3 separate regions of the Homo sapiens genome follow, and regions 1 and 2 are each linked to region 3. The links come from fine-mapping of genetic effects on gene expression. A gene starts in region 3. Each other region holds a variant in brackets. All regions are shown on one strand. Distances are between the middles of the regions.

Region 1 (2,852 bases), 43 kb after region 3:
CTAGTCTCATCAGTTGTGTTGTTTGCATTTAGTGAACTTAATATCTGACATGCATTATTTGGACCAAATTTTTAAATTTTTGAAGCTATTTCTATTTTACCAATAATCTTTAAAACTGTCTTTATTTCCCAAAGATTATTTAAGTCACATGAACTAAAAAGCATTGCACTTTTAACTTTTCTGACAAAATTTTTTATTTAAGCTCTTATTATTAAACCAATTAATTAAAGCTCTTTTATATTCCACACACAACATGTACAAAAACACAGACAAACAGAAGTTAAAGACCCATCCCCTAAGCTGGGAATTGAACCCTGAACCCGGGCCGCCATTATGATGGCAGAAACCAAGAGAAAGTACGGCCACGTGGTTACAAGGCCAAGGTCCCAAGGACATGACGGACCAGAGGGAAGCCTCGTCCAGTTTACACACACACACACACACACACACACACAACACACACACCCCCACACACACCACACACACACCACACACACACCACACGCACACACACACCTCACACACACACACCACACATACCACACACACCCCACACACACAACACACACCCCCCACACACACACACCACACACACACCACACACAAACACCACACACACACCACACACACACCATACACACACACCACACACACACCACACGCACACACACACCTCACACACACACACCACACATACCACACACACCCCACACACACAACACACACCCCCCACACAAACACCACACAAACACCACACACACACCATACACACACACCACACACACACACCACATACACACCCACACACACCCCACACACACACACCCACACACACCCACACACACACCACACACACAACACACACCCCCCACACACAAACACCACACACACACCACACACAAACACCACACACACACACCACACACAAACACACACCACATACACACCCACACACACCCCACACACACACACCACACACACACCATACACACACACCACAAACACACACCACATACACACCCACACACACCCCACACACACACACCATACACACACCCACACACACAACACACACACACACACACACACACAGAGACAGAAGTCTGACTGGTGAGCAGTTCTTGCACTTGTGCCAGCATGACAGATTTCTGGGTTTCTTTTCCTGGGGGGCCCTAGTGACCCAACTGTAGCAGGACTAGCTGCAGACAAAACCCCTCAGACACCGAGTTAAAGAAGGGCTTTATTCGGCCGGGAGCTTTGGCAAGAGTCAAATCTTCAACAGCCGAGCTCCCCGAGTGAGCAATTCCTGTCCCTCTTCAGGGCTCACAACTCTAAGAGGGTCCACGTGAGAGGGTCGTGATCGATTGAGCAAGCAGGGGGTATGTGACTGGGGGCTGCATGCACCGGTAATCAGAACAGGACGGGACGGGGTTTTCACAGTGCTTTTCTATACAATGTCTGGAATCTATAGGTAATATAACCGATTAGATCAGCCAGCGGT[C/T]GATCTTTAACTACCAGGCCCAGGGTGTGGCGTTGGGCTGTCTGCTTGTGGATTTCATTTCTGCCTTTTAACTTCTTTCTCTGGAGGCAGAAATTGGGCATAAGACAATGTGAGGGGTGGTCTCCTCCCTTACGACTGGCTGTACCACAGCCCTGGGGGCCAAGCTGCAGCACAAAGGAAGTTACCTCTTTCCGTTCTGGCCAGGGCAAAATACGTGTGAGAAAACAGAGACATCAGCCACTCTGCTTAGCACCTAACATCACACTGGCAAGGCTCAAACTTGCTCCGGTCATCGTTAATCCAACCTCCAACCACAAGTTTCAACACGTGTTCTCTGGGCAAGTCGGTTGCCCCAAGTGATAGAAAAGATAAAAAAGAGAAAGGAGAGAGAGAAAAGCATCGCCTGAGGCAGGGTGGGGAAGGCAAAATGCTCAGGGAGGCCAGAGAAAGACCCGCCCATTGCAGGAACCCTGAGGACTTCAGGCGGCTGCTGTTGGGAAGGGACTTTTTCCGGCAGTCCCATCAGCTCTCAGGTTCCCCTTTTGCGAGAGGAGAAAGCTCCCCATGTTCCACGATCCTGTACGTGCCTAATCCTGTCACCCACAGCCGTCAGCAGAGAGTGCAAGGCAGATTAACCCAAAGAGAATAGCCGTTAACGTCCCCTCGTGCCGAACCCGTTCTCAGCCGAGAGGGACTTTTCTGAGAGGGACTTTACTGAGGGGGCTCTCTAAGCCCCTAAATCTTAAAAGGGACCCTAACCAACCCTCCTAAGGTGGGTCTCTAACCCAAGGTGGGTCAAGCATCCTTGCCTTGTATTAAGAGTGGGCTTTCACCCTCTCTGTCTTAGGACAGACCCTAACTCCCCTAAGTGGGCCTCTCACCCAATCCCATCCTTCGCCGGCTACCCCACCACTTACCCAGCGTCGTCCAGTCAGGGCCGAGTCTATTTCCTTTGGGTCGGGGGCTCCTCCTCAGTATTGTCCCTTCAGGGTTTGCCAGAAAGATGTTACCGGACCCCACTACTTACCCAAAGTTAGCCTTTAGGTCGGGGGTTTCCGCACTGGAGCCCCTCCTGAGGTCACCAGAGATATGTCACCTACCCAACGCTAGGTTTTGAGTCTGCAGTTTTTCTTCTGTGGTCGCCAGAAAGATGTTACCGGAAAGGGGTCCCGATCCAGACCCCGAGAGAGGGTTCCTGGATCTCATGCAAGAAAGAAATCAGGGGGAGTCCATAAAGTGAAAGCAAGTTGGCCGGGCGCAGTGGCTCACGCCTGTAATCCCACCACTTTGGGAGGCCAAGGCGGGCGGATCACGAGGTCAGGAGATCGAGACCATCCTGGCTAACACGGTG
Region 2 (2,852 bases), 47 kb after region 3:
CCAACTCTGTGGACTGAGCCAGTGAATCGGCCTCAGGCCAGGCACAGAGCCGGCCCCAGAGGCTGGGGTGAAACACGAGCTGTGAGCTGCAAATCAGAAACAGAGCGACAGGACACTATTTTCATGACGAGGTTCTGGGTTTTTCCCTGATGTTTGTTTCCTCGGTTTTTTTGTTTGTTTTTCCCTTCCCAGTATTTTTGGACTTGAACTTTAGAACTTCAACTTCTCTGAGGTTTAGCTTGGCGGGAGGAGGGGGATTAATTACCGTACCGTAATTTCTCCTGGGATACTGGATTTGGGAAAGGGTATATATCCTAATTTGCCATTCTGAATTGGTTGCATTTGATTAAAAGCATGACTTCTATCATGGAGGGTCCAGCCCTACGGGGCTTGGCGGGTGTTCTCCCCGTGTGTGGAGACGAGAGACCGGAAGAAATAAATACACAAGACAAAGAGATAGAGAGAAAACAGCTGTGCCCGGGGAACCACTACCACCAAGATGCGGAGACCGGTAGTGGCCCCGAATGGCTGGGCACGCTGATATTGATTGCATACAAGACAAGGGGGCAGGGTAAGAACGGTGAGTTGTCCAAGTGATTGATAAGGTCAAGCAAGTCATGTGACCATAGGACAGGGGCCCTTCCCTTACAGGTAGCGGGAGCAGAGAGGGAAGGCAGCATACGTCAGCGTTTTCTTCTATGCACTTTTAAGAAAGATCAAAGACGGCCGGGCGCAGTGGCTCACGCCTGTAATCCCAGCACTTTGGGAAGCCGAGGCAGGCAGATCAGTTGAGGTCACGTGGCCAAGACCAGCCTGGCCAACATGGTGAAACCCTGTCTCTACTAAAAATACAAAAAATTAGCCACGCATGGTGGCAGGCGCCTGTAGTCCCAGCTATTTGGGAGGCTGAGGCAGGAGAATGGTGTGAACCCAGGAGGCGGAGCTTGCAGTGAGCCGAGATCGCACCACTGCACTCCAGCCTGGGCGACAGAGCAAGACTCTGTCTCAAAAAAAAAGAAAAAAAAAAAGAAAGAAAGAAAGATCAAAGACTTTATTTCTTCTACCGCTATCTTCTAAGAACTTCAAAGAGGAACCAGGAGTAAGGGAGGAGCATGAAAGTGGACAAGGAGTGTGATCATTCAAGCACCACAGGGAGGGGGTTAGGCCTCCGGATGACTGCGGGCCAGGCCTGGAGAATATCCAGCCTCCCACAAGAAGCTGGTGGAGCAGAGTGTTCCCTGACTCCTCCAAGGAAAGAAGACTC[C/G]CTTTCACGGTCGGCTAAGTAACGGGTGCCTTCCCAGGCACTGGCGTTACCGCTTAACCAAGGAGCCCTCAAGCGGCCCTTATGTTGGTGTGACAGAGGGCTCACCTCTTGCCTTCTAGGTCACTTCTCACAACGTCCCTTCAGCACCTGACCCTATACCCGCCGGTTATTCCTAGGTTATATTAGTAATGCCACAAAGAGAAATATTAAAAGCTAATGACTAATAATGTTTATACTGATTGATAATGTCCACGATAAAAGCTAATGATTAATAATGTTTATACTAATGATTGATATGTCCATGATCATCTCTAATTTGTATTATAACTATTCTTATTCTCTTTATTATACTGAAAGTTTGTGCCTTGTCTTTTTTTTTTTTTTTTTTTTTTTTTTTTTTTTTGAGACAGAGTCTCGCTCTGTCGCCCAGGCTGGAGTGCAGTGGCGCATCCGGGCTCACTGCAAGCTCCGCCTCCCAGGTTCACCCCATTCTCCTGCCTCAGCTTCCCGAGTAGCTGGGACTACAGGCGCCCGCCATGTGCCTTCAGTCTTTTGCCTCCGCACCTGGGTAATCCTCCGCCCACACTATCACATGCCCTGAATAATGGGGTTAAGAACAATTTGGGGTGGAAAACAGGGTAGGAAGGGAACAGATGGCTCAGAACACAGGAAGTTAATTTAACTGCAGTCCAGGGAGGATGGCATTCTGGAAGCCGAGTCGGCCTGAGGTCTAAGGGGCGGAGGGAACTCCAAGCTTGGCCTGGAGCTCAGGGAAGGGAGCTCGCGTGGACTTCAGGAGCCCGGTGGGTGCTTCCTGTGCACAAACGGGCAGGGTCTGAGCTCCCACCGTCTGGAAATGCTGCCCAGTGGATTTCAGCCTCATTTTACCCAGCTCCCAATCAAGATGGAATTGCTCTGGTTCAAACGCCTAGCTTCGCCAGCTAGGGGGTGAACCGGCCACAGATCCCCGGAGGCCAACAGAAGACAGAGCCCCTGGGTCAGAGGCAAGGACGGTTGACTTCTCAGGCAGGGAGGTGGCCAAGGGAACCGCTTCTGCGGCGGCTTCCCAAGCCCCAGCTCCCGCAGAAGGCCTGGAGGGGCCCGGGGACCCGTGCCACGCAGTGAGTGGCGGCAGGACACGAGCCCGGGGGCGCAGCTTCCTGGACACTCTGCCCCCAGACACTGGCTGCCACGCGGGACGGTGACCAGCGCTGCCCTCGGCGCCCGGGAGGCCTCCCAGGGCTGTGCGCCAGGAAAACATTCCCGAACCGACGGCCGGGAATGGAACGGGGCGGGGCGTTTCCCAGCCCGAGGAAAACAGCCCTGAAAGCGCGGCCAGGAATGGATGGGGGTGGGGCGTTTCCCAGCTGCTCTCCAGGGAGCCGCCTGGAGCGGGGGAAGGGGGGGGCGGCGCGTTCCAACGGTGGGGGGGCTCGTTCCAACGGTGGGGGGGCGGGTCTGCGTTTCGGGCCCCCAGACACGCAGCACGCGGAGGAGCGCCCCGCCCCGTCTAGAGCCCCTTCCTCCACAGCAGGGCCGGGGCGCAGGGGGTCTCCCCGCACCCAGCGCGTCCCGCCCCGTCCCGAAC
Region 3 (2,500 bases):
AGCCCTTAGAGCTCACCCCAGCCAGCAGAAGGAGGAGGACTTAGGGTGTTCGACGTCGAGAAGCACTGTGAGTCGATGGTAGACACAGCCATTGTTAAAGTTAAATCTTAGGAATCTTAGAAATTATCAATAAAATTTATCTTATAGAGCCAAAGTCATCGTTACTCAAACACATCACTCTGCAGTTACACGGCTGCACGCTACCGTCATGTAAACTCTGGAATACTGACGTGGACCTGACCACCCGCTGAGGTGAAAGGCTACAGCAGGGTGAGCAGCTGCCCATCTCTGTAAATTCCACCCTCAGCGATGTCCTCTGCGGAGTCTGGCCTGGTGGGAGAATAAGCCCAGGAAAATGGGCCCATGTAGCACATCAGGAATTAAACAGGGCGCAGGTCGCGGTGCACATAGGCCTGCAGGCCACGTTCCTGCCCCTGTGACCCGCACTGTCCCCTCTGACAAGCTCAAGTGCACAGCATCAGCTCTGTTTGCTGCAATAGCCTCTGCCAAGGAAGGTCCAGGAAGAAGCCCAGAGGCCACACAAGGTGTTTCCACAGGGAGGCTGTAACCTCAGGAGCTGCTCAGAGGCAGCACCGGTTCATGGGAAAAACAGGCGGCAACTACAGGAAGCAGCTGGCACCCGTGTGAGGACCCAGGGAAGAGGCAGAGATGATCAGAACCTGGAAATCTGGAGGGTGCCCCAGGGACCAGCCAGCCAGAGCTCTGGGCAGCGTGGGTGCTGCTGGGCTGTGTGGAGCGGGTCTGGGAGCCGTCACCCAGGTGGGCCTCCAGGGGAAAGGGCCATGGCTTCTAACTCCACCGTCCAGGTCTCTGCTATTGGCATCCCACAGCCCCCTCTTCTGTCAGTGCTCCCAGAGTCCCCTTTCCTGGGCCTGGAGGGCTCCTTTGGGGCAGGCAACATTGGCCGCCAACCCTCTGACCTGCACCAGGAGACACGGGGACCTTTAACCCCCAAACCCGCATGGAGCAGGACTGCAACCCCAGCAAAGGACAAGGGATGTCAGCAGATGAGGCCTGTGACAAGTGAGATGAGGGCTTTTTTTTTTTTTTGAGACGGAGTCTGGCTCTGTTGCCCAGGCTGGAGTGCAGTGGCACAACCTTGGCTCACTGCAAGCTCCGCCTCCCCGGTTCACGCCATTCTCCTACCTCAGCCTCCCAAGTAGCTGGGACTACAGGTGCCCGCCATCACACCCGGCTAATTTTTTTTTGTATATTTAGTAGAGACGGGGTTTCACCGTGTTAGCCAGGATGGTCTCGATCTCCTGACCTCATGATCCTCCCACCTCAGCCTCCCAAAGTGCTGGGATTACAGGCGTGAGCCACGGCGCCCGGCAGAGGTGAGGGCTTTGGGGAAACGGTTGTGGGGCCTGGAGTGTGGAGGCGTCAGCGCAGGCCTGGCAGGAGCCCTGAACCGGGACAGTGAGGTCCTGCAGCTGCTGGCCTGGGGTGTGGAGACTCCCAACACAGGGGAAGTCTCCAGGACCCCACACCACTAACAAGATGAGACTTGTGCTCCTTTGGGCTCTAGAGAGGAAGCCCCTCTTAGCCCTCAGCCCCTCTTTCCTCCCTCTCCTAAAGTAATTTGATCCTCAGGAATTTGTTCTGCCCTTATCTGGCCCTGGCCAGCTCTGCATTTGACAAATGCCAGGAAGAGGAAACTGTTGAGAAAACGGAACTACTGGGGAAAGGGAGGGCTCACTGAGAACCATCCCGGTAACCCGATCACCGCTGGTCACCATGAACCACATTGTGCAAACCTTCTCTCCTGTCAACAGCGGCCAGCCTCCCAACTACGAGATGCTCAAGGAGGAGCAGGAAGTGGCTATGCTGGGGGTGCCCCACAACCCTGCTCCCCCGATGTCCACCGTGATCCACATCCGCAGCGAGACCTCCGTGCCTGACCATGTGGTCTGGTCCCTGTTCAACACCCTCTTCATGAACACCTGCTGCCTGGGCTTCATAGCATTCGCGTACTCCGTGAAGGTGCGTATGGCCCTGGCGGAAATCCAGGGGGTGCCGGTGAGCCTGGGGCTCCACCTGCCCACATGCTGCCTGGGGTGGGGACTTGTGTGTCCCTGTGACTGTGAGTTTGTGTGCACGTCTGTCCTGTGTGTGCCCACGTCAGTGGCTTTGTCTGTGTGATCTGTGTGTGTGTGTGGCTTGGGGAATCTGCCCAGTGCAGGTCTAGGAGGAGGCTCCAGGAGGCTGGCTGGCTGGCTCAGAGTCTGTCCCCGGCTATCCACTAGCCCAGAGCAGTTCTCCCTATAGCCCAGTAAGAAATTACACCTTCACCTTCCAGACTGGCACCCAGGCTCTCCCAGAAAGTGAGAAGGGAACTCACAGGTGACTTCACCCCATGGTGGGGAGAACAGCCTGTGCTGGGGCCAAGGCAGAAGGAGGATGAGCCCCGAGGCTCCTGGAGAGTCTGAGCCGGGTGAGGAAGGGGAGGAGGTGGTCCCTGATCTCAGGGCAGGGAGGA

The links. PIP is the estimated chance that this variant, and not a neighbour inherited with it, causes the effect.
Region 1: its variant is the best candidate, but not a certain one, in a credible set for the expression of IFITM2 in blood mononuclear cells (TOPMed, PIP 0.70).
Region 2: its variant is the best candidate, but not a certain one, in a credible set for the expression of IFITM2 in fibroblasts (GTEx, PIP 0.62).

What each region holds. Positions count from the first base shown.
Region 1 is chr11:349,079-351,930 of GRCh38, forward strand. No RefSeq gene overlaps it. Among named protein-coding and RNA genes, the nearest start is that of B4GALNT4, 19 kb to the right of the region's middle. RefSeq lists a cis regulatory region at 1,737-2,213. The variant C/T (reference allele first, on the strand shown) is at 1,502.
Region 2 is chr11:353,492-356,343 of GRCh38, forward strand. No RefSeq gene overlaps it. Among named protein-coding and RNA genes, the nearest start is that of B4GALNT4, 15 kb to the right of the region's middle. RefSeq lists silencers at 1-165, 2,634-2,852 and enhancers at 828-1,404, 910-1,199, 2,386-2,852. The variant C/G (reference allele first, on the strand shown) is at 1,265.
Region 3 is chr11:306,435-308,934 of GRCh38, forward strand. IFITM2 (interferon induced transmembrane protein 2) reads left to right here and starts at 1,382. Exons shown (of 2, transcript NM_006435.3): 1 at 1,382-2,004. The coding sequence starts at 1,759. RefSeq lists enhancers at 1,623-2,042, 2,423-2,500.